Homo sapiens: one gene and its partners. The protein of the gene in region 4 purifies or fractionates together with the protein of the main gene of each other region. This does not show direct contact. Each region holds a gene or a part of one and is shown on either strand. Other genes may lie near its edges. The genes, in order: RNF123, NDRG1, LGALS9 and NAA50.

Region 1 (7,861 bases), about 64 Mb from region 4:
CCCACCTCTTGGATCATGCCAATGAATTCAGAGAAGGCCCAGTTGAGCTGATTGAGGACGCTGTTGAGGAAGCTGGGTGCCACATCAGGACCCTGCTGTAGGAGGTCCGCCATGTGCTGCTGCAGCAGGGTGGAAGGGCAGGGCTCTGCAGGGGGACAGGAGGCGGCATCATCAGGGACTCCACTGCAGTGGCCTCTGCCTGTTTGCCTCTGTCCTCGCCCATTGAGGCTTTGGTATAAGGACAGAAAGATGGCTCCCTAGGAATGCTCAGGTCATGAAAGCAGGGGACAGAGGACAGCTGCCTTGGAGTTAGTTGGGACAGAATCTGTCCCCTCCTTCTACTAGGCAAGCCCCAGGCTGCAGCTGTGTCCAGCCCTGACACCACACCATCCACTCCAGGTCCAGAGCAGCCACACAGCCACAGCCTGACCCTCAGCAAGTTCTGGGTCGCACACCCTTCAGATAGGGTCAGACCTAAACAGGGCGGCTTAGATGCTTCCCCACCGGCACCAAGGCCAGCTCCTCCAAGAGCCTACTCTAAGCCCTGCTGCAAACCTGCTGTCCTCTACTGTCCTCTGCTGCCCTTGGCCTGGCCTTGGCATATGGCCGAGGTGGTGGGCACCAAGTCTGGGCTGGCAGGCAGCAGTAACCGGAGCCCTCAGCTGCAACGGGCCTGGCGCACCTCCCCACCAGCTTGATACAAATCAATAGTTCCCGCAGCAGCAGGACAGGCCTGGCCCCACTGCCGCTCTCCACTTGCAGCTCAGTTCCGCCCTGGACGCAGGACCACGGCAATTGGCAAGGACTTGCTGTGTGACTTAGCAGAAGACACTCAGCCTCTCTGGGGACACCCTTTGGACCAAAACACTGCCCACAAGGGCAGAAACAGACTACATGAGCCAAGAAGAGCCACCATGAAGGGTGAGGACAGTGTGTGGCACACCTGGCACTCTGCAAGGGCCAGGCCTAGGGGAAAGTCCTTGCTGGACCCTGGAGAGAGGGCACAGCCTCTGCTCCCAACTAAATGTCCCTTCCTCCAGGAACTCTCGTGAATACCCTCTGGGGACCTGGCCAACCTCCAATCTGTGCTCCCAGTGGACTCAGGTGTCCAAGGCCTAAGCCAAGGCCAGGGTCTGCCACCAGCAGATAGCAAAAAAGAAGCAGAAGGACATGGTGCTGGGACAAGGCTGGAGGTCAGGGAGCTAGCTTAAAGGGCAAGGGACAGAGTATTCAGTCTGCATGAGCTGTAGCAGGCCAGGAACATGGTGCCGCCTCTCACCATGACCCACATAGAGCATCCAGGCCCAAAGGGCACATGTAGGTAAGACTGTGGGCAAGGCTGGGGAGGGGGAGTCCCATCCCGAGTATCCTTGGGCTGGAAGGAAGCAGGGAAAGTGGAAACCCCAGGGGACACGTAGGGAGTCTGGGACCCAATGGGGGAACCAGAGAGGGGCTGGAAGAAGTGGAGAGTCTGAAAGAACCCATGGGTAGGAGGTAAGCGCCCCCGCCTGCCTTGCCCAGGACTCGCCCAACCCAGATACTCACTCTGGAGGCTGGGCAAATTGGCGTCCTCAAGTTTGGTTTTCAGCAGATGTGGCAGCCGTGTATAGCGGTACCCGAAGCCACAGCCCTGTGGAGGTGGGGGTCAGTGCCCAGGTCAATGGGACAGCGCACCCTCTCCCTCCAGCCAGCCTCAGCCACTTCCCCTCGAGTCAGGCTTACCCTCCAGAGCCGCACCAGGATCCAGTTGGTCTGGGCCCAGGGCCGCTGCTCATAGGGCGCCAGGAGGTTCCTCACCATGGCGATACGCCTGTGAGGGCAAGGAGGGGAGAGACGGGGTGAGGCTGGGCATGGTGCTTGTGGCCAGGGTGTGTGCCCCCCAGGCCCCACTCACTGCTCCTCGGGGATTCGCTCCACAGCCCGCAGGGAGTGTGGGTAGCACACGTAGCTGGCCAGGGCCTGCATCAGTGAGTCTCGGATGTCTGCGGGGACACACCGTGCCTCAGCAGGGGCTTGGCATGAGCCCTGGACCCATACTTCATGCCCACCTGGCCACATTTTTCATAGAAGAAAGCCGACCAGAGGTGCCATCCCATCCCCCTCCCCCTGTACCCTCTGTAGGGGCCCCTCACCAGTGCCCACAATGCGTGCGTCGGCAAAGTGTTTGGCGAGAATGGCAGCCAGGCGGGTCAGGGTCTCTTCATAGCCTGCAAGGGTGGGAAGTGAGACGTGTCGGCTGGGAGTGGGGGCTCCAGAGGCAGGCATGTCAGCAGGGTGGGTGGACTTGGGTAGCAGGCTCTAGAGCTGGCTCCCAAGGCCAGCCTGGACCCAGGGTGGCATCTGGGGACATCGGGCAAAGCATTCATTGGTGGCTGTGCAAGGGCTAAGGCACAGGCTCACTGTGAAGGGATGACAGGCCCTGGCAGGAGCCCTGACCTGGGCTCAAACCCATCTCAGCACACACACCTGATGAGCAGTCAAAGCTCCTTGGGCACTCACAGCTCTGTCTTTGAAGACAAAGCCTGCACTGAGGCCTGTGGCTGGGCAGGGGGCAGGCTAGGGGCCTGACAGCTCACTGCCTGATCCAGACATACACTGCCACGCCCAGCCTGGAATCAGCAGGCTGAGAGGCCCAGGTTCGGATGTGGACCCTAGCAGGGTCCACCCCCTGCTGTGATTTACCAAGACAAACCATTCTGCCCCTGACCAACTGCTACGCTTTGTGACCAGTGCCAGGGAGTCAAGGTGCAAGGCCAGCTGGCTCCTGGACCATGGCAGTTGCTCATAGCACTAGGAAGGAAGTGAAAGCCAAGAGGTCTACACCCACCGTGTTCCATCTTGTCTGTTTTCCTTTGCTAGGGAGCTGTTGGCTCTGTGGCTGCAGGTCCCAGGGCAGGGTGCAGACGTTTGTTTGCTGCAGGGTGAACCACAGAGGAAGCTCCTCCCCTCCCCGCCCCCCACAGAAGTGTGTTGCTGGGCCACAGAGGTCTCAGACCAGGGCTCCTAGGGCTCACACTAGAGACCCCTTTTCTGCTTCTGCCTCAGCCTGAATGGTTCCATCACCTGGGAGCTCCTCCATGCTGTGCACGGGACCAAAGTAATTCTTGAGAGCACTGTAGCTGTTGATGGCCACGCTCAGGTAGAACTCGGGCATGAAGGCAAAGAGAGACCCTGTGCGATCACCGTGCTCAATGGTCCGCAGGCAGACGCGCAGCAGCCAGTAGATGTCCAGCATCTTCTCCTGCAGGAGGCACACGGGGTGCTGCTGGGTTGCGCACCAGTGGGGTCTTGGGGGCATGTCCTGGCCTGGGGATCAGGAAAGGCCTCCCCAGGCCTACGACAGCACAACTGAGACCTGGATTTCAGGAAGCATGAGCAGTAGCTCAAGCAGGGCAATCAAGTCCTCAGCAGGCAAGAGGGACGCACTCAGCCTGGAGGGCGCATTACTGTGACCCAGGCCAGAACTCTGGTCAGCATATTTGTAAGCAAGTTTTTTTTTTTTTTGAGATGGAGTCACCCAGGCTGGAGTGCAGTGACGCCCTCTTGGCTCACTGGAAACCTCCGCCTCCCAAGTTCAAGGGATTGTCTTGCCTCAGCCTCCCGAGTAGCTGGGACTACAGGTATGTGATACCGCGCTCGGCTAATTTTTGTATTTTTAGTAGAGATGGGGTTTCGCCATGTTGGCCAGGCTGGTCTTGAACTCCTGACCTCAGGTGATCTGCCTGCCTCAGCCTGTAAGCAAGTTTTAGGCAAGAGGGTGCTGTGACTGGAAGTCTGTGTGGAAAAGTGGAGTACAAGGTGTGTGAAGGGCCCAAGAGAGCTGGCGATGGTAAGCAGACAGGCAGAAATTTGATCTGGAGTGCAAAGGAGAAGGTGGTGGGAAAGCAGGGGGCAGTGTGACTGGTGGAACAGAGGTCACAGGAAACAGACAAAACCTGCTGAGGGCCCTGCTCCCCACAATGTGGTTTCCACAAAGTCTATGTCAGGGTCTCACAAAGGAGCCCAGGCAAGAATGAGGCCTCAGGCCCCAGCCCAGACCCACAGCACCCGTGTGTCTTGGAGTGCGGTCACAGCACCTGGGCTTCACACCAGCTCTCTGATGTGCCCTAAAGCCCAAGGAACTGAGGAGAAGATGTAAGCAAGAGGTTAGGGGAGGGCCTAGGCGCAAACCTAGGCAGCGATGATCCTGCTGCTACAGAAGGCCAGCGAAGACTGTGTCTGGTGAGGGGCTGGCAATGGCCCCATCAGAGCTAAGGTATCAATGCAAAGGAGATGGAAATGTGCCGGCCGGATTGAGATGGGGGCAGACAGAGACCCTGGTGAGACTATTTCAGAGATGGGGAAGAGCCTGTGCTGGAGGGAGATGAAGGGGAAGATGTAGCAGCTAAGACAGAGAAAGAAGGAGAGAGCATAACTTTTGGGCACATATAGCGTCAAGGCTGGAATGCAGTGGCACAATCACAGCTCACTGTAACCTGGAACTCCTGGGCTCATGTGATCCTCCTACAGGTATGTGATACCACGCCCTGCTAATTTTTGTATTTTTAGGAGAGATGGGGTTTCGCCATGTTGGCCAGGCTGGTCTTGAACTCCTGACCTCAGAGTAGCTGGGACTACAGGTATGTGTCACCATGCCCCGCTAATTAAATTTTGTTTTTTTTGTAGAGATGGGTTGCCCAGGCTGGTCATGAACTCTTGGCTTCAAGTGATCCTCCCGCTTCAGCCTCCCAAAGTGCTGGTTTACAGGAGTGAATCTCTCCATTAATAATGGGATTAGAAAGACACAGGTGAGTTAGTGCTGAAGATGCAGAGAATGAAGGCAGTTCAACATAATAAAGACCATATATGAAAAGCCTCCATCTAACATCACACTCAGTGGTAACAGACTATAATCCCTCCCTCCCTCAGACCAAGAACAAGACAAGTGTGCCACTTTCTCTACTTCTGCTCAGCACAGTCCTGGAAATCCCAGCCAGAGCAACTAAGCATGAAAAAGAAAGGAAACCACACTGGAAAGGATAAAGTAAAATTATCTCTGTTCACAGACATGATTTTATAAGTAGAAAATCCTAAAGATACACACACACACACAAAACCCCAACTAGGATTAATAAATAAATTCAGCAAAATTATAGGATATGGCCAGGCGCGGTTGCTGAAGCCTGTAATCCCAGCACTTTGGGAGGCCGAGGCAGGCGGATCACCTAAGGTCAGGAGTTTGAGACCAGCCTGACCAACAAGGTGAAACCCCATCTCTACTAAAAATACAAAAATTAGCCGGGCGTGGTGGCGTATGCCTATAGTCCCAGCTACTCAGGAGGCCGAGGTGGAAGAATCGCTTGAACCTGGGAGGCAGAGGTTGCAGTGAGCCAAAATCTTGCCACTGCACTCCAGCCTGTGCCACAGAGCGAGACTCCCTCTCAAAACAAAACAAACAAACCAACAAACAAAAGATATGCAAATGGCCAATAAGTGCTTGTAAAGGTACTATTTGTCATAATGTCACTAATCATTAGCAAAATGCAGAACCACAATAAGGTACCATATCCTACCCATTAGGATTTACTATTAAAAAAGTAGAAATTGCCGGGTGTGGTGGCTCATGCCTATAATCCCCGCACTTTGGGAGGCCGAGGCAGGAGGATTCCTTGAACCCAGGAGTTTGACAACTGGGCAACATAGTGAGACCCTGCGTCTACCAAGAAAAAAAAAGGGCAGAAAATAAGAAGTGTCGGTAAGGATATGTATGGAGAAATTGGAACCCTCATGCACTACTGGTGAGAATGTAACAGGCACAGCCACTGTAGAAATGATATGGTAGTTTCCAAAAAATTAAACAACAGAATTGGCCGGGCGCGGTGGCTCATGCCTGCAATCCCAGCACTTTGGGAAGCCGAGGCAGGCGGATCACCTGAGGTCAGCAGTTCAAGACCAGCCTGACCAACACGGTGAAACCCCATCTGTACAAAAAATACAAAAATTGCAGGGCGCGATGGCTCACGCCTGTAACCCCAGCACTTTGGGAGGCCGAGGCGGGCGAATCACCTGAGGTCGGGAGTTCAAGACCAGCCTGATCAATATGAAGAAACCCCATCTCTACTAAAAAAAAATACAAAATTAGGCCAGGCGCGGTGGCTCACGCCTGTAATCCCAGCACTTTGGGAGGCCGAGGCGGGTGGATCACGAGGTCAGGAGATCGAGACCATCCTGGCTAACACGGTGAAACCCTGTCTCTACTAAAAATACAAAAAATTAGCCGGGCGTGGTGGCAGGCGCCTGTAGTCCCAGCTACTCGGGAGGCTGAGGCAGGAGAATGGTGTGAACCCGGGAGGCGGAGCTTGCAGTGAGCTGAGATAGCGCCATTGCACTCCGGCCTGGGTGAAAGAGTGAGACTCTGTCTCAAAAAAAAAAAAATACAAAATTAGCTGGGCGTGGTGGCACATGCCTGTAATCCCAGCTACTCAGGAGGCTGAGGCAGGAGAATTGCTTGAACCTGGGAGGCAGAGGCTGCCGTGAGCCGAGATCGCGCCATTGCACTCCAGCCTGGGCAAGAAGAGCAAAACTCCACCTCAAAAAAAGAAAAAAAAAATCACAAAAATTAGCCGAGCATGGTGGTGCGCACCTGTAGTCCCAGCTACTCGGGAGGCTGAGGCAGGAGAACACTTGAACCCAGGATGTGAGCCGAGATCGCACCATTGCACTCCAGCCTGGGTGACAGAGTGAGACTCCATCTCAAAAAAAATAAAAAATTAAAATTAAAAATAAAATAAAAAACAGAATTACCATATGATACAGTAATTCCACTTCTGGGTATATAACCAAAAGAATTGAAATTAGGGTCTCAAAGAGATCTTTGCAAACCCATGTTCATTACAGCATTATTCACAGTAGCCCAAAGTAGAAGCAACCCGAGTGTCCATCAGCAAAGGACTGGATATATGAAATGTGGTGTCCGTACAACAGAATATTATTCAGCCTGGAAAATGAAGAAATTCTGACACATGCTATAACACGAATGAACCTTGAGGACATTATGCTAAAGCCATACACAAAAGAACAAATAGTGTATGATTCTTCCTAGATGAGGTGCTTAGTATAGTCAAATTCAGAGACAGAAAGTAGGATGGTGGTTGCCAGGGGCAACCTGAGCTAGCCTCAGAACAGGGCCATGGTGGTCCCCTCATGACATGGAAGTAAGGCCCAGCTGGGGGTCTGTGAGCCGCTGGCCAGAGCACTCAGGGACCTGATGCCAGAACCACTGCTCCCCCAGCTGCCAGACCCAGGGATCTGCTGACAGGTGGGGATGGGTGGGAGCTGTCAGGGAAGCTGGGGAAGGGAGGACAGGAGGTTTTGTTCAACAGGCACGGAGTATCAGTTTTGCAAGATGAAATGAGTGTGGAGATTGGCTGCACGACAATGTGAATAGACTTAACACTTAAAAATGGCTATGATGGGTGACCGGGCACAGTGGCGCACGCCTGTAACCCCAGCACTTTGGGAGGCCGAGGTGGCAGGATCACATGAGGCCAGGAGTTTGAGACCAGCCACGCCAACAAAGTGAAACCCTGTCTCTACCAAAAAATACAAAAAGTAGCTGGGCGCGGTAGCACATCTATAATCCAGGAGAACTGCTTGAACCCGGGAGACAGAGGTTGCAGTGAGCCAAGATCATGCCATTGCAGTCCAGCCTGGGCAACAGAGTGAGACTCTGTCTCAAAAAAAACACAAAACAAAACAAAACAAAAAAAACACAGCTAGGATGGTACATTTTATGTCACACATATTTTAGCATAACTAAAAAAAGGCAGAGAGATGAGAGGGCAAGGGTCTTGAGAAGACAGTGTGGGAGAGGGCAGCCAAA
Region 2 (7,861 bases), on a different chromosome or scaffold from region 4:
CCGGCCTCCAGGAGTGCTTTGCTGCTCTCTCACTTAGCTCTTCTTACATTTGGCCTTTCGTGAAGGTCAGCAGCGGGCACACATATTTACTCTCAACCCTCTGAGTGTGCGACTGCGTCCCTCTCACGTCTGCACCCCCAGTGGTCTGGAGTGTTTGTTCAGATCCCTGCAAGGCGAGCTGAATGCCAGGAACCAGCTTACAGGCCAGGTGTCCTTCCTGGGGACACCTGTCCTATTAATCTATTTGCTCAAACTCAGAGCCTGCCTCTTCCGCTCATTTTATACTCTCCCTCTCATCTGTCCCACATTTCGGATCTACAGAAGACACCTCATAAATAGCAATGATGTGGCTGAACTACATCCCAATACCTGTTGTAGGCATTGATGAACAGGTGCAGGTTGCCGGGGTTCATGTCATTCACAATGTGCTGGCGGTAGGTGTGGACCACTTCCACGTTACTCTGCATTTCTTCCTGCATTTAGAGAGGTGAGAAGATGGTCCTCATCGCACTGTGGCCCTGAGCTGGTCACTACTCTCTCCATTCTCCAGGTTATTTGGAGACAAAGTAAAGATAATAATGCCTAATCCACAAGACAGCGACGGACCTAAAAAAAAAACCTTTGGGAAAGCAACACGCCCAACCAGGTGCAGACAGGGGTTTCACTATCCGCTGGGAGCAGAAAAGACCCCCATCCTGGAAAGGCCACACCCCACCCTTCCAAACTCATTACTTTGGGAGTTTCAATTTGAAGTCAGACATCCTGGATCTAGAGCTTAGCTTCATCACTGTCCCTTTCGTAGGCAAATCTTTCAACCTCTCTGAGCCTCAGATCTCTTAAAAAAAAAAAAAAAAAAAAGGGAAGAGAGAGAATGTTGCCTACTTCACTAGGTTGTAGGACTTAATGGAGGTTGTGTTCTCACCTCTACTAACAGTAAAAATTGGAGGCAAATGTTAGTAATTGTTTTCCAATGGGAAGAGCTGAAAAGAAGTTTTTCATGCTTGAAAAGCAAAATCAACTCATGCCACAGGAAGTTACTGAAAAGAAGGGCAATTGCAACTCCCACCACGGCCAACCAGAGCCTTGGGGAAGTCGGCCTCAGCCTCCCCGTCTCTGGGTGCTTTTTGAATGTTATTTGCGACAAACAACTTGTTTGCTCTGTTTCTCATTTGTACGAGGGCAGACACTGTAGGTTTCACACAAGGGTCTGATATGACCAGTGGCAACCAGATGAGAAGTTGGAGTTGGGGGTCAAAGAAAGCCGGTGTCAAGCTTGAGCTGCATCAAACAGTCCAGGATCATTTAGGCAGCAAGGAGGTCAACTGGCTACTAAGAGCAAACTCTGGAAAAAATAGTCAGGAATCACGCTGGGATTTCAGATCAAAACCAACTATAGCGATCTGGGGGTACCCTCAGACACCATGGCCGGACCAACCAGTCTCCAAATAACTTGGGGTATAATCAGATCAGATGCTCAACGCTATGTCTGACATCCCTCCTCCAGTGAAACAGAGACAGTGGCTGTGAATTTTTCCCAATTCCTATCAGTTTCAGATTACACACTCAGGACAGGGAAAATGTGTCACACGCTGTGGAATGAATCGTAAAAGGGGAAAGAGGACTCTAGTGGGCTAAACTGTGGCCCTCAAAAGATATGTCCATGTCAAATCTCTTGAACTTGGGAATGCAAACTTGCTGGGAAAAAGGGTTTTTGCAGGTGTAATTAATTAAGGATCTTGAGATGAGATAATCCTGGATTACATGAGCCGGGATGAAATCCAATGGAAAGTATCCTTAAAAGAGGAAGGAGAGGGAGAAATAAAACAGACACAGAGGAGAAGACCATGTGAAGACAGAGGCAGAGAGTGGTGTGAGCAGCCACTAGCCAAGGAATGCCGACAGCGACCTGGAGCAGTAAGAAGCAAGGACGAATTTCCCCTGGAGCCTGTGGCGGAGGGGCGGCCCTGCCAGCGCTTGACATCGGAGTTCTAGACTCAGAGCTGTGAGAGAATACACTTTTGTTTTCCTTTTTCTCTGTTTTTGAGACAGAGTCTCCCTCTGTCTCACCCAGGCTGCAGTGCATGGCGCGATCTCGGCTCACTGCAGCCTCTGCCTCCCAGGTTCAAGTGATTCTCCTGTCTCAGCCTCCCGAGTAGCTGGGATTACAGGCGCGTGCCACCACATCCGGTTAATTTTGTATTTTCAGTAGAGACGGGGTTTCACCATGTTGGCCAGGCTCGTCTCGAACTCCTGACCTCAGGTGATCCACTCGCCTAAGCCTCCCAAAGTGCTGGGATTATAGGTGTGAGCCACCCTGCTCATCCCACTTTCGCTGTTCTAAGCCATCCTGTTTGTGGTAATTTGTTACAGAAGCCACAGGAAACCAACACAACAGGCAAACCTAGCAGTTGTACTCGCCAACTCCAGAGTGGAGCCTCTGTTCCCCTGGTACACTCGCCAACTCCAGAGTGGGGTCTCTGTTCCCCTGGTACACTCGCCAACTCCGGAGTGGGGCCTCTGTTTCCCTCGTACACTCGCCAACTCCGGAGTGGGGCCTCTGTTTCCCTCGTACACTCGCCAACTCCAGAGTGGGGCCTCTGTTCCCCTGGTACACTTGCCAACTCCAGAGTGGGGCCTCTATTCCCCTCGTACACTCGCCAGCTCCAGAGTGGGGCCTCTGTTTCCCTCGTACACTCACCAGCTCCAGAGTGGAGGCTCTATTCCCCTCGTACACTCGCCAACTCCAGAGTGGGGACTCTATTCCCCTCGTACACTCGCCAACTCCAGAGTGGGGCCTCTATTGCCCTCGTACACTCGTCAACTCCAGAGTGGGGCCTCTATTCCCCTGGTACACTCGTCAACTCCAGAGTGGGGCGTCTGTTCCCCTGGTGTACTCGCCAGCTCCAGAGTGGAGGCTGTGTCCCCAGGACTCATGGGAGTGTCAGATGGTCACACATGTTAGCTCAGAAGCAGACAGTGGTATGTAAGCAAAGCAGGTCACTGCAATTTCAGGCAACCAAGGGGTTTTCCAGACCCTGGGCTTGCAACCAAGCCCATGGCATACCCTTCCCGAGGGTAGCTGGCCCCAGCTAGAGACACAAAACCAGTGTCTGGGGCCAGGCAGGCTGGGCTGATAAGATGACTGCTCACTTCTAGCATGCTGTGAGGGGCTTGGCTCAATCCCCTTTAGTGGGGTAACTCTGCAGAAGAGCAGCTCATCTCAGAGCCAGGCAGCAGCACAGGCAGCCGCCATCCTGCTGTGGTGACCAGAATGAAGCCAGATTCATAGGTTCTAATACCGGCCCCACCTCTCCCTGGTTGAGACCCTATGCAAGTCACTCAACCTCTCTGGTCTGTTTCCTCTTCCATAAACTGGGAATGAGAACAGAATTTATCACACAGGTCACAGAGCACCTGGGTGGAATCCTATTCCTATAGTTAACACTTGTGAAGCTCTTAGGACTGAGCCCAGCCCAGCACACAGCTAACTCCACGGACATGTTTGCTACTGACCAGATTTATAACAGCCCAGAACTGGGAACAACTCAAAGGTCTTATCAACAGGTGAATGGAAAAACAAACTGTTGCACATACATAAAATGGAATACTTCTCAGCACTAAAAAGGAATAAACTTTTTTTTAAGAGACAGGGTCTCTCTGTCACCTAGGCGGAATACAGTGGGCTATCCCAGCTCACTGCTCACTGTAGCCTCAAACTCCTGGGCTCAAGCAATCCTCCTGCCTCAGCCTCCCAAGTAGCTAGGACTATAGGCATGCAGAACCACCATGCCTGGCCAATTTTTAATTTTTCTGTAGAGACAAGGTGTCACTATGTTGCCCAGGCTGGTCTTGAACTCCTGGGCTCAAGCAATCCTCCTGCCATGGCCTCCCAAAGTGCTGGGATTATAGGAATGAGCACTGCACCCCGACTAGGAATAAACTATTGATCCACTCATTAACATGGACAAATCTCAAAATGGTTATGCTGAGGGAAAGAAGCCAGACCAAAAAAAAAAAAAAAAGAGTACCTACTATATAATGCCATTTATATAAAATTCTAGGAATTGCAAAGCAATCTATAGAGGCCAATGCTGATCAGAAGTTGCCTGAGGAGGAGGGAGAGGAGGACTATCAAGGGGCACAAGGAAACTCTTGGAGTGATGGAGACGTTATTCTCCTGATTACAGGGATGGTTTTACAAATGTATATGCATGTCAATTGTACACTTTAAATATGTGCAGTTAATTGTACTTCAATCAGCTGTTTTTAAAAGACACATAAAAAAGAGAGAGAATGAATGACTTGTTGCTTATGAATGAATAATGTCACATTATCTCATGAGCACCAGCTCGGTGGCCCCCAGTTGATTGTGTCTTGTTCTCTCCACCCCCACATGGGGCCCTGTGCTGAGCACCACACAATGCCTTGCTCAGCAGGAACAACAGATTTGCCAGACCACGCAACTCACCTTCCCAAAAAGGTGGGACACCACCATGTCCGGCAGAGCTTGGGTCCATCCTGAGATCTGGAAAGGAGTAAAGTGGGTGGATGAGAAACCAGGAGCTAACAGTAGTTAACAAGGTCAGCAAAACCCCACTTCCCTGGGTGCAGGGTGGCATTGCTGGACTCCCCCCTACATGCAGGCCTCAAGGACATCCCCCTTGATAGAAACTCAGTTCCTGTCTCCAGTTCCCTCCTGGACCTGATCCCCCAAATGCAGGGCCTGGGACTATATCCAGTTCCTTATTTTCAGAGGCCCATGCACAAGATGCACAGCAAATAAGTGCTGAATAAAGACCCAGCTACTGCTAGCTTACCCTGCTCCAAACATTCACCAAGTCCTCAGCAAAGAGGGCCATCCATTCACCTCTTCTAAAAACACACTGAGCTCCCCAGTCTATACCCCAAGATATGCTTGGCTCCCAACTATCCCTCCTCTCTCATCTCCAAGCCAGTTTCCCCTTTCTAAGTATACTGATATTACCAAAGACACTGACAATCTTCTTTTCCTACCTCTCCCCAGTGACTAGGTTTGCAGCAGGAGCTCTATAAGTCCTAGTATACAGCAGAAGCTCCATAAATGTGTGCTGACCTAAGCATTAGGCAAAAATGAGTAGGAGAGAAGCTCTAGACCTAAGGGTCTTTGGCTGGCCCTTGCCTGCCACAGCCTAGCTGTGTGGCACTGGGCAGTCTGCATACCTCTGGGTCTCAGACTTCTAATCTGGAACTGGGAGTGCCAGGAACTTCAAGGCCACAAGGTCAAGGGAAGGACTGCAAGAAGTAACTGCACACATCACAGTATCTAATACCAATGCCTGGTAATCGAAAGGCTGGAGTTGAAAAAGAAGGGAATAGTACAGCTATTAAAGCTGTACTGAAGGGAATAGTACAGCTATTAAAGACAATCCTCAGGCTTCACATTAGCCAGTGGTCGACATCCCCAGACCTTCGAGTCTCACTCAGGACAGCTATCATGAAGCCCAGCGGGTTGACTGGAATGTCACTTCCTTTGCTGGAAAATCAAATAAAAAACAGGGAGTGTGTTCCACTCCAGAACGTCATACAGGCTGGACGGAAGGGCTCCTGCATTCTGGAGGAATGTTCAAAGAACAAATGCAAAATCACAGTGGCTGGTACAGGGCAGGGGATGGGGCAAGAGGCAGGGCCCCTTCAAACCATCGGTCCCTGGCAGCCACCCAAAATTGGGCAAAAATGCACTTGCAGAATGAGAAGCTGCGATCACCTCAGCTTGAAAGACTCTGTCCTATTTCAACTGGAATGACCTCCCCCTCTCCTTGGCCAACACTGAGGCCTTTACAGGGAAAAAAACAAAAACAAAAACACCACAATGATAATTTTTAAAAGATAAACAAGGAACCTTAGGACACCAGCCAGGACAGAGCTTCCCAAGACAGCACAGGTCCCTTCTCCTCCAGGCAGCCTACCCTGCTTGCCAGGCCTGCCTGTCTCCCACCCTGGACAGGAGCCCCAGGGGCACGGGTGGTCAGGTCCACGAACCACAAAGTCAAAGCAAGCTGCATCCAGTCCCCGTTCTACTGCCTAGCTTTATGTGACCCTGGACAATCCCCTTAGCCACACCGAGTCCTTACCTCTGAAACGGTGATAAAAATTCTCACCTCCTAGAGTTACTATGAAGATTAACTGAGATCATGCACACACAGCAACGTAGAATGAAACTAGCACATGGTAAACTCTCAATCTACGTTAGCTAATTATTATCGTAAAATTCTGTGGCACAGTCCGTACTAAATACATATTTATTTTTCTTTAATAATATGTGAATGGATTCCTAAGATTCATTCCTAGAGGCTTTTGTCTTGTTCATCTCAAGAAGTCTTGTTCTTCAAGATGCTCAGCATCTTGACCAAAGCCTGGCACAAGTTATGTACCCAGCTAATACTCATTAATCCAAGCAATGCTTCTCCAAGCTGCCTCAGGGACCTGTGTCCCAGTGCTTTCCCTGGCTTAGACAGCTTGGTGGTATTTAAGTCTTCTGAATGGCAAACGGCTGAGGTCATGTGTACTGTTCTAAGTAAAGCAGAGGGAACTGGAGTGGGCAGTAGAGGGTAGTGGAGGAGTGGGTAAAGAGAGAGCTCGTAGCTCCAGGGATCCCCCAGGCAGAGGCTGTGTGCACCTGTCCCTCTTCTTGCAGGGATCCCGCCGGCCTGACAGGCCCCCACCTCACCTTGGAGGCGGCCCAGTCCATCCAGCCTTCCGCACAAGGGTTCACGTTGATAAGGACAAGGCCCTCCACCATCTCAGGGTTGTTTAGCTGCAATTCAAGACACAAAGTGAGACAGACATCCCAGCAATCTGAAACACTAGGAACTTTCCAAGGCAAACCAAAGCTTGAGAGAAGTACCCAGAAAAAGGCAGTGTGGGCAGCAGAGCAGGCTGCTGCTCCCCGGCCCCACCCCATGCAAAACTGAGGTTCCAGCACAGCAGACACGGTATCGGGTCCTAGAGAGAGTGGGAAGGAGAAAGAGGAAGTGCAGGAGAAGTAGGAAGCCCGCTGCTTTGCAGGCCTGCCTTGGGCAAGTCACTTCAACCCACGGAGGCTCAGCTTCTCCAGCTATCAAATGGGTGTAACACACCATCGACCTCATCAATCAAACAAGGCGCACAGCACAAATGCTCTCTAGTTGTGGCAGTAACAACTGTATTACTTACTTCCAGGATAAACACATGCATACACACACACACACACACACACACACACACACACAGAGAGAGAGACAGAGTTATGCATCGCTGAATAACAGGGATACTTTCTGAGAAAATTCATCATTAGGAGATTTTGTCATTGTGTGAAGATCTCAGAGTATACTTACACACACCTAGACAGTATAGTCTACAACTCACCAAGGCTGTATAGAACAGCCCTTTGCTCCTAGGTTTGCTGTACAAACCTGTACAGCATATGACGCTACCCAATACTGCAGGGAATTGCAACACAATGCTAAGTATTGATGTATCTAAGCAAATCTAAACATAAAAATGGTACAGTAAAAATGAACCATTATAATCTTATGGAACCACTGTCAAATGTGCAGTCTGTCATTGACCAAAATGTCATTATGTGATGCAGATACATACAGATATAGATATGTACACCTGGGGTACAGTTGAGACCATTTTTAATTTGCTGAGAGCCTATATGGCCAGACCATTTTGTATTCATGTCAGCATTCCTTTCTTTTTTTTGTAAGATGGATGTTGTAGAATCATGTCAGTATTCCCAACCTCCAGCAAAGCCCAGCAAATAATAGGTAGTCAAAATACCAATGGATGTACAAAATGAGTATTGTTGCATTCTTACACAATTGCTCGGTGAGGATAC
Region 3 (7,861 bases), on a different chromosome or scaffold from region 4:
GGATTACAGGCGTGAGCCACCATGCCCAGCCGGCTTCTCAGCTTTAATGTGTGTGTCTCACCTGGGGTGTTGTGAAAACGAAGGCTCTGATCTCTCAGGTAGGTATGTGTGTGTGTCACGGGGCAGGGGGGCGGTGCGCGGGATGCCGCGTTTCCAACAAGCTCCCAGTTGCTGCTGGTGCTGCCAGCTCCGAGGACTACACTGGGGCCTGAGGAACTGGATTCTTGCTGAGCCAAGCAGGATGTGTTGGCATCACGTGGACGCGGAGCTGGGCTGTTGGGCAGTGGCCCAGTGGCTGGCAGAACCCCACACATGAACACTGAGCCACTTTTCCCACGCAAGCCCTAACCCCTAATGCCGGGGAGACCCACAATGGAACACACACCCAGACGGTGCTTCGGATCAGCTTCTCCTGACCCCCCTCCCCAAGCCACCTCCTCCCACTGGGACGCCAGGTCTGAGGAGGCAGCTCTGACCCTGCTGTGGCCCTCACAGGCTCTGCCCCAGCCCCTCTCCCATCTCGGAGGCATGGGGCTGTTTCCTGGTGTCCCCCATTACCACCCTTCCTGTGTCCGAGACTCCTGCCCAAAAGGCTAGAGCCCCAGCCTGCTTTCTCCAACACCCTCGTGGGATTTGCAAGAGACCCTCTGGGAGGAGGTGTGAGGTCAGGACCCCCTGCCCAAAGGGAGTCCATGCTTTCCCATCCCACTCCTCTCAGCAGCACCCCCGCCCGATTCCACAGACTCCAAAATGTCTCCAAATGAATTAAAGAAGCCATGGTCAACCCACATGAATGTGCCAACAAGCATTTTCATTTCTTTATTTTAAGGACACTGGGAAAGGAGCCAGTCCTCTGAAGAGAACACTCTGGTCAGGTGGTGGAGGCCAGTGGGAAGCCATCAGGCCTGCTTTCCAGGAGGGGTGAAGGGTTGGTGCACGGTGCAAGGTGAGAGTGAGGTTAAAGGTCAGAGAGGAGGGGCTGAGGAGGCCACCTCCCACCAGGAGCAGACAGCTGGTGGCTTGGGACTGGGGTGGAGCTGCGTGGGGGATGGGAGGGGACTGAGCATGGGGCTTCATCTTCACTGCCCACTCCTCCCCTCTCCCTGGCTGTGCCTGCCTCCTGGGATGGTAGGATTCCAGCAGCTGGAGCCCCAGGTGCTGCTGCGGCTGAGGAAGGCAATCCCCGTCAGCTGCCTTCTCCGTTCCAGGGTGGCTGTAGCCAGAAGCAGGACCAGACAAGGACATGGCCTCTGCATTAAAGCCCAGATCCCAGGCAGGGTTGGAAAGGCTGGGCCTGGGAAGTGGGGATGATGAGAGGACCCAGACTGCCCCACACCCCAGCCCCCGGCCCCAGGGCCAGGAAGCCGCCTATGTCTGCACATGGGTCAGCTGGATGTCGCCCCCCACTTCCAGTCTGTTGATGGTGGGCAGGTTCCTCAGGCGATGGTAGTATTCAAACAGGTGCTGACCATCCACGGCCACCTTGAGGCAGTGAGCTTCACACAAGATCCACACCTGTGCAGAGATCATGCCGTTTGCACTACACTTGGGAAGTCCTCCACCCTCACTGCAGCCTCCTCTCTCCCTCCCTCCCACCCTCCCTCCCTCCTCAGTTGTTAATAAGCCCCTCACCTGCACTCTATCCCCACTGAACGACGGCTCTTCACTAAACAGGCTGTGCGTGCTCTTTCCCCTGTACTGTTCCCTGGTCTAGAATACTGTTCCCACCCCATCAGGGACAGGAGCACTGGCCTGTGCCGTCTGTATCCCTCAGGCCCAGCACACAGGAGTGCTCTGGGCCTGGGCTCCTGCAGCATCAGTCTCCTAACTTGTCTTTTCCACCCCAATGCCTTCTCCACGAAGCAGTCAGGGTACAAATGTTAAAACCTCCTTCCCTTTGCAATAGCTAACACTCCTATCACACATGCCACCTGCCAGGCACTGTCCTAAGCATACTACAGATACTGTCTCATTCCATTCTTACAACTCTAGGAAATTCATGATTATTAGCTCCATTTTGTAGATGAGGAAACTGAAGCACAGAATAATTAAGTCACTTGTCCGAGGTCACACAGCTGTCTACAAATCAAAGTATGTTGCTCCCTGGCTTGAAACACTCCTGAGGCTTTTCACTGTGTTAAAATCCAAGCTCCTTTCCATGGCTGCAAAGCCCTACATCAGTCATTTTCAACTCTGACTGCAGAGTATAATCACTTAAGGCATATTTTTAAAATACGAATGCCCAGCTGACTGCCTCATTGGCCTGGGCTGGGGTCCCAGCACTGATATTTCCTTTGTAAGCTCTCTGGGTGATTTGAATATGTAGTCAGGGTGGAGCACGCCTGCCTGCTGTTCCTGGACAGGCCACACCCGTGCCTCTGCACGTTGGCCCTAGCTGCCCCTCCCAGGCTCGCTCTATCTCATCGCTCTGTTTTGCTTTGTGCGTGGCACTGTCGTTATCTGTGACAATCTGTCCATGCTTTACTTTCCTTGTTCTTTCCCCACCTAAATTATAAACTCCCTGGAGGCAGGACCCTGTCTGTGTGCTTCATGACTGTGCCCCCAGCATGTGGGGTGCTTCCTGCGCAAAGCAGGCGACAAGAAAATGGTTGTTGAGTAAATGAAGAAATGAATAACACCTCCTTCTTGGGTCTGATTTGACACTTACTGACTGTGTGACCACAAGCAAGTAACCTGCACTTGTGAGTTTGTTTCCTCATCTGAAAAAGCAGATCCCAGCACTTCCTTCATGCGGGACAGTAATAATAATAATAATTTGTTGGCCACCTTCTCTTCTTTTGGGCCTTCATCCCAGAGGAATCAGCCCCCATACTGTTCAAGGTACCTCAAACCTCCTTTACCCCCTCCCCCTGTGCACCCATGGGAGCCTCTCCAAGCTCCAGACTGCGGTGCCTTACTGAGAAGCTCTGGCCACGGACGAAGGGCATTTTTCGGGGCAGACTTCGCTCCTCAGACCCCCAGGAGTTGTCGATCTGGGTGTTGCGGACCACAGCATTCTCATCAAAACGGGGGTTCAGGTGGAAGGCGATGTGGTTCCCAGAGCACAGGTTGATGTGGAACCTGGGGTGGGCAGCCCACCTGAACCTTTATCCACCGAATTCTGAGTCCCATTTCCTCCCCATCATCAGTAGCCTTCCTGAAGCCAGGGGAATGGCTGGACTGACCTTGAAGGGCTCTCTCTTCCCAGAGGTCACTGGAGCCCTTGGCTTACCTCTGAGCACTGGGCAGGACAGTGCCTGACAGGAGGATGGACTTGGATGGGTACAGCCCTCCCAGAATGGTGGTGATGAAAGGCATCGGCTGTCGGAAGAAGGGGGACAGGTCAGCCACCACGCGGAAGGGGAAGATTGTACCAGTTCCCATGAATTTGGGCTGTCAGCTGAGAAGAAGCCCATGATATCTTTACTTGGTTCCATAAAAGCCAAAGGAAAACTTTCCAGTGCTCCTCAAATTAATGGGCTTAGATTAGTGTCATGAAAGGAACTTTGGCCAAACACAAAAAGACTCGTTTCGTGGGGTGAAAAGGGAGGGACATGCAATGTGCTCATATTGACACGACAGTTTTAAGGTTGAAAGCTCCTCTCCACAGCCTTCTAATTCGCTGGGATGCTTTGAAGCCCTTCAGCTTAACAAATGACTGCTTTTAATTTTTCAAGGCCAGTGGATCCCCCCACAGCGGCCCTTCACCCCCAGCCTGCCCACCACAAACAGAACCTCTGCCCTCCCTGAGAAACCACTTACATAGGCGGGGTGGGGGTACATCATAGGTGGGATGGCGGGAGTCTGTTGAAAAGAAACCAGGAAATTCAATGGGAGAGCACATGGGTGCGCGAGCACTCACCCAGGCGCACCCACGCGTTCTAGAGAGGACTCCACTGTGAGGCTGACCTCGTGAGCCTTTGGCCCTTGGACTCGCCCGTCTACCTCCCTTTTCATGTTAGCCTTCCTGGAACTTCCTGCCGTGTTCCCAGACCACACCACGGTCACCTGCCCCTCAACCCCTCCGCAGGCAGCCCCACTAATTCTAAGCCCCCCTGCCTCATTTGCACCATCAGGAGAAGAGCTTAAGCCTGTGATCAATAGTGACATCCTGGGGACCCAGGATGCAGGGCCAGGAACCTCACATCCGGGTGCTGGGGCCACTGTACTCCCCACTTGGTGACAGATGGACCAGTTTCCCTCCCGGTCTCTAGGGGACTTGTCTCTTCCACCACTGGATAAACCCTGCTTCTTCCAGAATCTCTGCTGTCCCAAGGACAGCTTTAGCCACATGTCACCTGAGCCAAGCACTCAGCCCCTAGTGTCCCCATCCTCCTTGCTAAACCGCTTTCTTCCCGACTCTAGGGCTCTAGGGAGTTTAGTTTTTGGTGAAGGAGGACACTGTGCAGCTGTGAACTGACCAGAACTTGTAGACTTACAGAGAACATCTGTCCAGGGGCGCTCTGCACTGTGTGGATGACTGTCTGGGTCTGGAAGAAAGAAACCAGGTCTCACCCAGGCTCTCACGTGTGAAAACCACCAGCTCCCACCAGAGGGCGCCACACGGCAGGCACCCTCCAGGGGGCGTAACAAGCCCAATGGCCCCACAGACCCCACAGAGGGTGGGCCCAGGTGTCTCTTCTCTCAAGGGGATGAGCGAGGGGCAAAGGTTAGAACCCTGGAGAAGACAGATGGGGACGCTGGTGGCTCTGGCCCATCTTTCCTCTCGGGGAAACGTCTCTCAGCCTAGCCTCCCTTTGCAGGTGACAGAAGTGAATGTGGGGCATGGTCTTCCGTGGCTGCCCACGGGGTGGCAACTCAGGTTGTTTCATCCAACCCCCACATCCAACCCCCAACCTCACCAGGCCGGGCAGATGGTCAAGGGTCTGGTCTGTGCCCTCCCCACTCCCAATGGGAGAGGCCCAATGCCTGGCCCTGCCTCCTCCATGAGCCCAGAAAAGCCAAAATGAGGACGATCCAAAAAGAAAGCAAGAGACTTACAATGGGAGCCGGGTTGGCAGGCCACACGCCGGGAGGCTGGAGGGGTGAGGAGAGTCAGAATGGTGGTTATCGCGGGCACCACAGAATGGGAGGAGATGGTGGCAAAACTCCAGGGAGGCTCTTGTGCTCAGAAATGCCTCCCCGGACACACCCACCTCCCTCTTGCTCCCAAGCAAGCCTTCCTGAGCCCGTGGCACCCAGATTTTTACCCCCAGGTGTACAGGGCTTTGGGGTTGGGGGGTAGGGTATCCCCACTGGTTCCTCTCGAGAGAGAGGAGACTGGGTTTGATAGAGACCTCATTGCTTTCTGTAGCTCCCACAGCGAAGAGCATTACTTCCAGTGCCATATTTCACCCATAAGGTGAGAAGTGGTATTTGTTGAAGGCCTATTGTGGGTCGATTCCTGGGCTTCAGTGCTTTCCAACAAGGGAAGCAGCCTCAGCTCCTGTGTCCCTAGTGAGGCAACGAGGCTCAGAAAGATTAAGCAACTTGCCCAAGCTTGCCAAGGTGGAAGGGATCAAATCCAAAGTGGCAGCCAGTTCTGTCTGACTGTATCCAGCACACTTTCTATCCTCCCCAGAGCCAGGGCCAGCGCCAGGGCCAGGGCCAAAGTTGGGCTGCCCTGCAAATGTTCCCTGGGGCTCGACCAGTCCTGAAGTCAGCGTGGCAGGAGGCAGGTGCCCTGTCTGTACGGTGATGAGCCATAAGAAGACTGCGTAGACAAAGCGCCCCTCCTCCCAGTCCCCACTACTTGAGTGGCCGGAGGAAGGGCTGCTCACCTCCTTGTCCTGGATCCTGCCCCACCCAGTAGACTGTTCTTGCCCTGGCTGGTATCCCATTCTCCCTGGCTGTGTGAACCACATTCCACATTCATTCACTGAGTCCCTACTGAGTGCCAGGCACAGTGCAAATGAACAAGCCACAGTCCTGGCCCTCTGGGGCCTCATGGGCATAGGGACATGGGGGTGGAGTAACGGGGACAGACACGCAAATACAGTTACAATGGGGTGCTGTGAACTGGCATGGCACAGATACATACAGACTCTGTGGGGACACCAGGGGAGCGTCCAACAATATTCCAGGCGGGGAGGACTCCCAGAGGAGCGGCACTTAGGCAGAGCATGGAAGGGCAATTAGGCATGTGCTCGAGGCAGGCTGGCAGAGGGTGCTTCCGGGACCAGGGACAGCATATGCAAAAGCATGGTGGCCCAAGAGGGCCTTGAGTGAGCTGCAGAGGCTGCGTGAGCTTCGTGGGTTGGGGGTGAGGCAGGGACGTGGATTGGGGCAGACTGGGGAGGAATTCATATACCCTGCTGGAGAATTTGGGCTTTATTTGAAGGGCTGGGGGCTGTGAAGATTTTTAAGCAGGGAGAGGGTGTGATCACATTTGCTTATAAGAAGGTCACTGTGGCAGTGGTTGGGTGTAGGGGGTGGGGAACTGGACCCCTGTCGTCATGGTGAGGAATCCCAGAGGCCTGGACCACATCGGTGGCTTCAGGAGGGAGACACGTTCGTGCCTTGGAGAGACGTAAAGAAGAGGGAGTGAAGAATCCAGGGTGACCCCCAGGTCCCCAGCTCTGGGTGCCCAGCGGACAGAGACAGGGAACTCTTGGGTGGGCAAGATGCGGCCTGTAGGCCCTGAGTGGCCTGCTGGCTGGGGCCAGCCTCTCAGACCCTCGGTCCTTCCTACTGTCTGCTCGGCCACCCAGGGCCTCTGTGTTGAACTCACTTTTTGTCTGCGCCCCCTGGGCCTGGGTGGGAAACAGACAGGCTGGGAGAACGGCACCGTGGAGAAGGCAGGCTGAACAGGGACTGTGCGGGGGTTCTGTTAAAACAAAAGGCACCGGGCAGTGAGGAGAAGCATTAATAGAGCCAAGGAGAAGCCGAAAGGCAGAGGCAGGGGCAAGAGGGAGAGACCAGGCAGGCAGGGCGATGAGGCAAGGGGGTTAGGGCCCTGCCAAGATGGGATGGGAAAGAGCCAGGCTCTGGTGAGCAGTGCAGGGGTGCGGTCTCCCTCCAGCTCTTCCCTCCCCTACCACCCGCAGGGGAGAGAGTCAGGGAAGGAGGGAATGAGAGATGAGGACCAAAGGGCGAGAAGCCCAGATTTGCTGAGGGCCTACTGTGTGCTTCGCTGATCTCAGGGAGCAGCCTCGAATGCCAAAAGGGTAACAGCAGCTCCCACCCAGCTGCTGGTGCCCTGTGGGAATGTGGGCCCAGCATACCCTAATCTTCCCATTTTTCACATGGTATTGGTATCTCCTGACCTTATTTAGTTTTATTTATTTTATTTTATTATTTAAACAAAGTTTTTTGGAGACAGGGTCTTGCTGTTTTGCCCAGACAGAACTCTAATTCCTGGGCTCAAGCAATTCTCCCACCTCAGCCTCTTGAGTAGCCAGGACTGCAGACCTCCACCACCATACCTGACTCTCCTGACCTTTTAGATGTTGGCAACACATTCAAAGTTGTTAAAACACAGAGGTCAAACAGACCCTGGTGTGGGCCCAGGGGGGCCACTGTGTGACCTCTGATATCTGTCTCCTCACTGAACCACACAACCACCCATGGGGGGCAGGCAATGACCATTCTACAGATGAAGAAACCAAGGCTGAGAGAGGTGAAGTTGCTTGTCTAAGATCCCACAGATGATGAATGGCAGAGCTGGGAATTTGAACTGGATTCAGTTTGGTTCTTGAGCCTGGGCTCTTTCTAGAACAATATGCCCTCCTTACCAGGATGGAAACTGAGGGATGAAGAGAAAGGGGCAGCTGAGGAGTCTGGGAGACCAAGGCAGGTGTTCCGGACAGAGACAGTAACACAGAAGGAGGGGCAGAGTGACAGAGGAGAAGGGGCGGGCAGG
Region 4 (7,861 bases):
AAAATGTACTCAATAAAACATAATTAGCCCCATTTGTTAATATGAACATATGAAAGGGGTACCAAGTCTTTTTTACATGATTGATAAATCCAACTCTTTCAGAGTTGATTTATAAGCAAATTATCATTTATAAGCAAATTTTGACAGTCATTCAATACAAATTCTACTCATAGCTTTCATATAATTACATACATTCAGGGACAAATATGGTACACAACGACTACTACAAAGGCCAGAATAACATTCTGCAAGTGTCAAAATTTTCCTTGTAGTTCATAGTTCAGAAAAATTTAGATACACCTATTTCTGGTAAAATTACAGTTCCTTTGCCCAAGTATCTTATTACTTCTAGTAATTTATTCTAAGAAAACAATGGAGGTATGCAATACCATGCACATTCTATTCATGAAAACCGTGGTCTATGAACTACCTACATCAGAGTCACAGAGGTGATATGCAAAATTCACATTCCTGGATACACATACCCCATTTTCAGAACCAGAGTTGCTGGAAACGAAACAAAGGAATCCACCATCTTGAAAATCACCCCAGGATGAAAACTATCCATTAAGAAAGCAACAGGAGTGATATGGTTTGGCTGTGTCCCCATCCAAATTTCATCTTGTAGTTCCCATAATTCCCATGTTGTGAGAGGGACCCGGCGAATCATGGGGGCGGTTGCCCTCATGCTGTTCTCGTGATAGTGAGTTCTCACAAGATCTGATGGTTTTATAAGGAGGCTTTCCTTCACTTCGCTCTCATTTCTCCTTCCTGCCACCATGTGAAGAATGATGTGTTTGCTTCCCCTTCCACCATGTTTATAGGTTTCCTGAGACCTCCCTATCCCTGCGCAACTGTGAGTCAATTAAACCTCTTTCCTTTATAAATTACCCAGTCTCGGGTATGTCTTTATTAGCAGCATGAGAAAGGACTAATAAAAGGAGCATTCCTAAGAAACCACTTGTAATCAAAACAATTGGGTCCATGGAAAAGATTAAAGCGAAAAATTTTCAGTTCCAATTTCTAACAAAGTATCAAAGGTATTCTGCCTGCAGAGCTGTAAACAAAGAATTTTTAATAGCTGAAGTGAACTTCAATACTGTTAAAGGTGGATCAAATGTGATAAGGCAAACCTGACAGCATTCTACAATTTTTTTGCTCCATCCGTATTATTTGCCCAAAAAGATGTTGTAGCATATTGTGTTTTGTAGAGAAAAAGCACATTTCAACTATATTTAACAACGGACTTTTGTTAACATATACAAAAACATGCTTGAAAGGATTTTAATTTGTAGTAGAAATTGTAATTTTAAAAACTGTATTTTGAAATGTTAAAATTTAGATTAAAATGCAAAAAAACAAAAACAGAAACAAAAAAAAACAGCTGGGCATGAAGGCCTGTAATCCCAGCACTTTGGGAGACCGGGGTGAGAGGATCCTTTGAGCCCTGGAGTTCAAGACCAACCTGGGCATATAGCAAAACTTTGTAAGAAATTTTTTTAAAAAAACTTAACCAGGTGTGGTGGCGTGCACCTATGGTCCCAGCTACTTAGAAGGCTGAAGTGAGAGGACTGCTTGAGCCTGGAAGGTCGAGGCTGCAGTAAGCTATGATTGTGTACCATTGCATTCCAGCCTGGGTGACAGACTGTCTCAAAAACAAAACAAAAAACAGCAATAATTACAGATAAAAAAAGAAATTTCTAAATTTGATTTATCTGGAGAGGAATATGATGTAATATTTTATCTTATAGTACAAAGTTCTCTAAGATGTATTACTCTATAATGCCCAGTTTGGAGAACATTCTACTTGGTAAGGAGTTAGAGGCAAAAACAAGAGACTTTTACCCCCTATTTAAGTAGTCTGTATGAAGAACACAAAAGACAGCATAAAGCATCGTTTCTGTCATACTTAGCAGTTTTGAAAGGCTTAGCTCATTTGGAACTTTATCCTTCCTGCCTTGATTATTTTTTATACCACTAATCTGTATTATTTGTTGCAACCAATGATCTTTTCATGTCTTGTATGTCTTCCTAAAATCTGAACATAGTTTCTTAGCAACCACACAGATTAAATAAACAAACATGTTAGTAAAAGGGTAAGAGATTTATATATTTAAAAAACCCCTCAGCACCATAGGAAGTTTAAAAAAGTAAAAATAAAAAAATAGACATTTTCTTGTTATAGTCTCTTCCAACTTCTAGTCACTTAAGTATAGTCTTTTCTCATCCCAAGTATTTGACAACTATAATGAATTCCCTGTATGAAATTCATGTTTTCTTTAAGTAGATTACATCTCATTCACAGAACTCCCCCTCTTCATAACACTTTTCTGACTAAAATCTACTGGGCTCACTTTCCCCACTATCTACCATTCACATAAAAAAAAAAAAAAATTGGGAGGCCAAGGTGGGCAGATCATAAGGTCAAGAGTTTGAGACCAGCCTGGCCAATATGGTGAAACTCTGTCTCTACTAAAAATACAAAAATTAGCCCGGTGTGGTGGCACGTGCCTGTAGTCACAGCTACCCGGGAGGCTGAGGCAGAAGAATCACTGGAACCCAGGAGGCAGAGGTTGCAGTGAGCCAAGATCGCACCACTGTACTCCAGCCTGGGCGAGAGAGCAAGACTCCGCCTCAAAAAAAAAAAAAAGAAAGAAAGAAAGAAAAATCTGTGGATACTGTTATCCTGTAAACTATAGAATCCTTTATTTTTCTTTTTTTGAGACAGGGTTGCTCTGTTGCCCAGGCATAATTACAGGTCACAGCAGCCTCCGCTTCTCAGGCTCAAGTGATCTTCCCACCTCAGCCTAACGAGTAGCTGAGGAAGGCACATGCCACCACGCCCAGCTGATTTTTGAATTTTTTGTAGAGACAGGGTTTCACCATGTTGCCCAGGCTGGTCTACAGTTCCTGAGCTCAAGTGATCCGCCCACCTTGGCCTACCAAAGTGCTGGGCCTACAGGCGTGAGCCACTGTGCCTGGCCAAAATATAGGATCCTTTAAAAATGCAGTAGCTGACAGGGATCACATCTTACCTACACTGTCTCCTGTTTAACTTACCATAGTGCCACAAGTTGGGTGTAGTAATTTTTTTATATACAGTTTGTATTAATTTAGAGCATCTCATTTAAAAAAAAGTCTTAGTATTTAAAAAGTGATTTAAAATTACATTATGAAGTTGAAGTATCAACAATAATAGTAACTTAAGAACCTACAAAGTCAAGCTTCTAAAGTATAAATGAAAGAACTTGAGGTTTTTAAAACTTTAGGAATCATTTGTAGGTAGTAACTAGGCTTCAAGCATACTTACAGTTTTCAAAGAATAATACCAGGTATTTCTTGACTTCATACAAGAAGAAAAAGTGGTTATAGTGCACTGTGCTACAATGAGTCTAATAAAAGTTAACTACTAAAAAAAGTTTCCATTAGGGTGGCCAGATAAAGCCTAAATAGAGAAAACAATATTGAACCATTAGGAAATAGGCAGCTTAATCTTCCCCTAACTAATTAAAAAAATACATGCCTTTTTTTTTTTTAAAGCACACCATAGAAATGACGTAGAAAGGGAAAATATCCTGCAATAATATGGCCAGAAATAAGTTTGCTGATAGTCTTCCAATATTTTTCTATGCGCGTTATATATATGTATATACACGCTTTAAACAAATTTGAGATTTAAGTATTGTTTGGTAGCTGTTGGAAAAATTAAGCTGTTTTTGAGAAATTAATTTGATTTTTGCAAGAAACAAATATGCTAGAAAAATTTCAAAATGTTCACTTAATGTAACCTTGTCAGCAAAACTGAGCTTCAAATATAGTTTAACTCTCATTAACATGATATGTCTGACTGAAATGGAATACTTCTGTAATCCTGATCACTTAGCTCCAAATTATTTTAAGACATGGATTTTCTAAATATATCAAAGTACTATAATCAACTTGTAAATATAAGTTAGCAAGGAACACGGAGTTAAAAAAAAAAAAAGGCATAAGCATAAGGGATATGTAGACATGTCAAGAAAATAACATTACTTGAATGTAAACAACCAAAAAGGTTTTAGTTAGAATAACCTATAAAAAATTAAGTTAAAAGTCCAAATTCTCTATTAAAAAACTAACCTAATGGAGATTTAAAAAATTCTGTCAATCTAAATTTTTCTAAAGTTCTTATGAACATAATAGAGTTGCCTAAAGCATAAATCAATTATATTTCAATAAATATTTGAGTATCTATGTGTTATGCATCTGGAATGCAAAGGTGTTTACATCTGGTAGGAAAGACAGGTATATACAATGTGCTACTAACAGTGTATGTACATATAGTACAAAAATAATACTAGAATGAAGGTGACAATGGGAAACATTTTGAAGAACGACTAGCTTATCCTGTGGAAGGGCAAGAGATGCAGTCTAATAAAACATGAACAAAACAGCAGTGATGTAGTCCGAAAATCAGTCAGTTTGATATGGCTAAAACATCAAGTATGCTTGTGTATAAATGCGGAAGCTGAAAAAGAACCAATTTTATGACGGCCTCGTATATGGACGCATTTGGTTATCTTCTCTATAATTATTCTCTTGGTGATCTCATTCAATCTTGTAGTTGTGTGGCTTTAATGCTGCCAATTTCCAAATTTCTGTCTCTAGCCTATAGTTCACTCCTGAACTCTACATTCCTAGATCCAAGCAATCTCCAGCAGACACTTCAAAGTGAACATACTGCAAACAATTTCAAATCTTTGTTCCAAAATCTGCTTTGCTTGCAGTTTTTCCTGTCAATTGATGGCCTCTCCATCCTTGGCTGCAGTATATGTTAACTCCAAGTCTTTGTTCACATGGTATCTCAAAAAGGCTTACTCTTGATACACTTTTTTCCTTTTCTTTTTTTTTTTTTTTGAGACGGAGTCTCCCTCTGTTGCTCAGGCTGGAGTGTAGCGGTGCAATCTCAGCTTATTGCAACCTCCGCATCCTGGGTTCAAGCAATCCTCCTGCCTCAGCCTCCTAAACAGCTGTCATTACAAGCATGTGCCACCACTCCTAACTAATTTTTGTATTTTTAGTAGAGATGGGGTTTCACCATGTTGGCCAGGCTGGTCTTGAAATTATGGCCTCAAGTGATAGGCTCGCCCACCCTGGCCTCCCAAAGTGTTGGGATTATAGGCGTGAGCCACTGCACCCAGCCCTTGTAATATTCTTGATATGTTTTCTTATCAGGGTTATCTTGGCCTCAAAGAAAGTTTGGAAGTGTTTCTTCCTTTCTGCTGTTTCATTCAATCAATAAAAGAAAGCTTCAGGTATTTTCAAATTAGAAAGTGCACAAATATTTAGGACTACTGTTGATAATTTGACGCTTTTATCATTTTGAAATATCCTTTTTGCTGGCAATACTCCTTGTTTTAAAGTCTACTTTGTTCATTAATACGCAGTTTTCTTTCTTTCTTTTTTTTTTTTTGAGATGAGGGTCTCAACTCTGTTGCCCAGGCTAGAGTGCAGTAGCACAGTCTTGGCTTGCTGCAAGCTCCGCCTACGGGCTCAGGGGATCCTCCTGCCTCAGCCTTCCAAGTAGCTGAGACCTCAAATGCATGCCACCACTTTCAGCTATTTTTGTTTTGTTTTGTTTTTGTATTTTTGGTAGAGACAGGATTTCACCATGTTGCTCAGGCTGGTCTTGAACTCCTGAACTCAAGCAATCCACCTGCCTCAGCCTCCCAAAGTGCTGGGATTACAGGGATGAGCCACCAGGCCTGGCTTTACAGCTTCCTTCAAATCAAAGTTTCATGTTCTATCTTTTACCTTTTTCTTTTTACTTTTCCTTGTGTCCTTATATTTAAAGTGTGTGTAAATAGCATATAGTTGGATCTTATTCTTTTAATCTGACAATTGGAGTATCTGGTCCATTAAGATTTAATGGGCCAGGCACAGTGGCTCACACCTGCAATCCCAGCACTTTGGAAGGCTGACTCGGGTGGATCACTTGAAGCCAGGAGTTCAACACTGGCCTGGCCAACATGGTGAAACCCTGTCTCTACTAAAAATACAAAAAATTAGCCAGGTGTGGTGGCGCGTGCCTTTAGTCCCAGCTACTTGAGAGGCTGAGGCAGGAGAATTGCTTGAACCCAAGGGCAGAGGTTGCAGTGAGCCGAGATCGCCACCACTGCACTCCAGCCTGAGTGACAGAGTGAGACTGTTCAAAAAAAGATTTAATGTAATTATTGAATTACTGATTTAGTTGATTCAAGTCCATCAGCTTGCAATTTTCTATTTGTACCAAGTATTAACTGTTCTTCATTTTCCTGCCTTTTATGGGCATCAGTTTTGATTGATTCCTTGGCTTTCGGAAAAAAAAAAGAAAAAAAAAAACTTTTTAAAGCTTACATAAAATTAAATTCATCTTTTTGGTGTATAGTTCTGAGTTTTTACAAATACATATAATCATGTAACCATTACCAAAATATACAATTTAATTACTCCCAAAACCTCCCACATGACCCTTTAAAGTTCAACTCCCAAGCAGCCACAAATCTCTTTTCTGTTCCCCAAAGTTTTGCCTTTTCAAGAATGTCACATAAATGGAATCACAAAATACATAGCTGCTTGTTTGGTTTCTTTCATTTAGCATAATGTCTGAGACTCACCCCGGTGTTGTGCATATCAATAGCTCATTCCTTGTTAATGCTGAATGGTATTCCATTATGTGGATGTACTGTAAATTTATCCTCTTGTTGAAGAGCAGTTGTTTACAATTTTAGGTAACTGCAAGTAAAATTCCTATAAACATTTACATATAAGTTTTGGTATGAACATAAGTTCTTATTTCTCTTAGTAAATACCTAGGAGTGGGAATGCTAGGTCTTAAGTGTATAGGAGTTCTACTGTTCTGAATCTTCATCAGCATTTGGCATTGTTAACTTTTAAAATTTATGCTAACAGGTATGTAGTGACAATTTATTGTGGTTTTTAATTTGCATCCCCCTAAATAATAAATGAAGTGAGCATCTTTTCATGTATTTCTTTGCCATTCATGTTATCATCTTTGATAAATTAATTAGTTCAGATTTCTTGTCAATTTTTTAAAAACTGGTTTTTCTTGAGTTTTGGGTGTATTATGGATACTTGTCATTTGTAAGTTATGTATGTTGCAAAGAATTTTTACCAGTCTATGGCTTTTTTCATTTTCTTATTGTTTTTGGGAAAGTTTTACATTTTGACAAATTTATTTCATGGATTTATTTCTGAGTTGTATTCAAGAAATATGCCTAACTCAAGATCACAAAGATTTTTATGTTTTCTCTAGACATTTTACATTTAGGTGTATGAACTCCCTCTTTCTTAAATCCCCCTCATTTCTTTCTCCTTAAGCAGCCTTCTTGAGGTATAATTTATATACCATAAAAGCCATGTTTTAAGTGCACACTTCAGTGATTTTTTTACTATAAAGTTGTGCAACTATCATTGCAATTCAGTTTTGGAACATTCTCATTACAGTCTCAAAATTCCTTAGGTGCATCCGCAATCAATCCCCTTTCCTACCCCTAGACAGCCACTAAATCTACTTTCTCTTTCTACAAATGTGCCTTTACTAGACATTTAATATAAATGGAAGCACACAAGAAAAGTGATCTTTTGCACTAGGCTTCTTTCATGTGGCATGATTTTGACGTTCACCTCTGTTTTAACACGTCAGCAGTCTGATCTTTTTATTGCTGAATAGTATTCTATTTTGGTATAGTTTATACCACATTTTGTTTATTCATTCACCAGCTGATGGATATTTGGGCTGTATGTGCATCTTGACTATTATAATGCTGCTATGAATATTGCATAAAAGTCTGCGTGTGGACATACGCCTTAGTTTTTTTTC

The links.
Region 1: the proteins of NAA50 (region 4) and RNF123 purify together in Homo sapiens (co-immunoprecipitation; one large-scale study listed by IntAct). This does not show direct contact.
Region 2: the proteins of NAA50 (region 4) and NDRG1 fractionate together in Homo sapiens (co-fractionation; one large-scale study listed by BioGRID). This does not show direct contact.
Region 3: the proteins of NAA50 (region 4) and LGALS9 purify together in Homo sapiens (co-immunoprecipitation; one large-scale study listed by IntAct). This does not show direct contact.

Annotation. Positions count from the first base shown.
Region 1 is NC_000003.12:49,707,859-49,715,719, reverse strand, and holds part of RNF123 (E3 ubiquitin-protein ligase RNF123), read right to left. Parts: intron 3,242-7,861; coding exon 3,064-3,241; exon of another isoform or gene 2,828-3,063; intron 2,208-2,827; coding exon 2,133-2,207; intron 1,983-2,132; coding exon 1,895-1,982; intron 1,811-1,894; coding exon 1,723-1,810; intron 1,631-1,722; coding exon 1,546-1,630; intron 146-1,545; coding exon 6-145; intron 1-5. UniProt on the Homo sapiens protein: Catalytic subunit of the KPC complex that acts as E3 ubiquitin-protein ligase. Promotes the ubiquitination and proteasome-mediated degradation of CDKN1B which is the cyclin-dependent kinase inhibitor at the G0-G1 transition of the cell cycle.
Region 2 is NC_000008.11:133,250,071-133,257,931, forward strand, and holds part of NDRG1 (protein NDRG1), read right to left. Parts: intron 6,794-7,861; coding exon 6,707-6,793; coding exon of another isoform or gene 6,656-6,706; intron 4,526-6,655; coding exon 4,469-4,525; intron 474-4,468; coding exon 370-473; intron 1-369. UniProt on the Homo sapiens protein: Stress-responsive protein involved in hormone responses, cell growth, and differentiation. Acts as a tumor suppressor in many cell types. Necessary but not sufficient for p53/TP53-mediated caspase activation and apoptosis.
Region 3 is NC_000017.11:27,642,490-27,650,350, reverse strand, and holds the end of LGALS9 (galectin-9), read right to left. Parts: intron 6,827-7,861; coding exon 6,731-6,826; intron 6,519-6,730; coding exon of another isoform or gene 6,393-6,518; exon of another isoform or gene 6,316-6,392; intron 5,038-6,315; coding exon 5,002-5,037; intron 4,491-5,001; coding exon 4,440-4,490; intron 3,805-4,439; coding exon 3,763-3,804; intron 3,322-3,762; coding exon 3,233-3,321; intron 3,082-3,232; coding exon 2,919-3,081; intron 1,516-2,918; coding exon 1,369-1,515; 3' UTR 791-1,368; downstream 1-790. UniProt on the Homo sapiens protein: Binds galactosides. Has high affinity for the Forssman pentasaccharide. Ligand for HAVCR2/TIM3. Binding to HAVCR2 induces T-helper type 1 lymphocyte (Th1) death.
Region 4 is NC_000003.12:113,724,108-113,731,968, forward strand, and holds part of NAA50 (N-alpha-acetyltransferase 50), read right to left. Parts: intron 1-7,861. UniProt on the Homo sapiens protein: N-alpha-acetyltransferase that acetylates the N-terminus of proteins that retain their initiating methionine. Has a broad substrate specificity: able to acetylate the initiator methionine of most peptides, except for those with a proline in second position.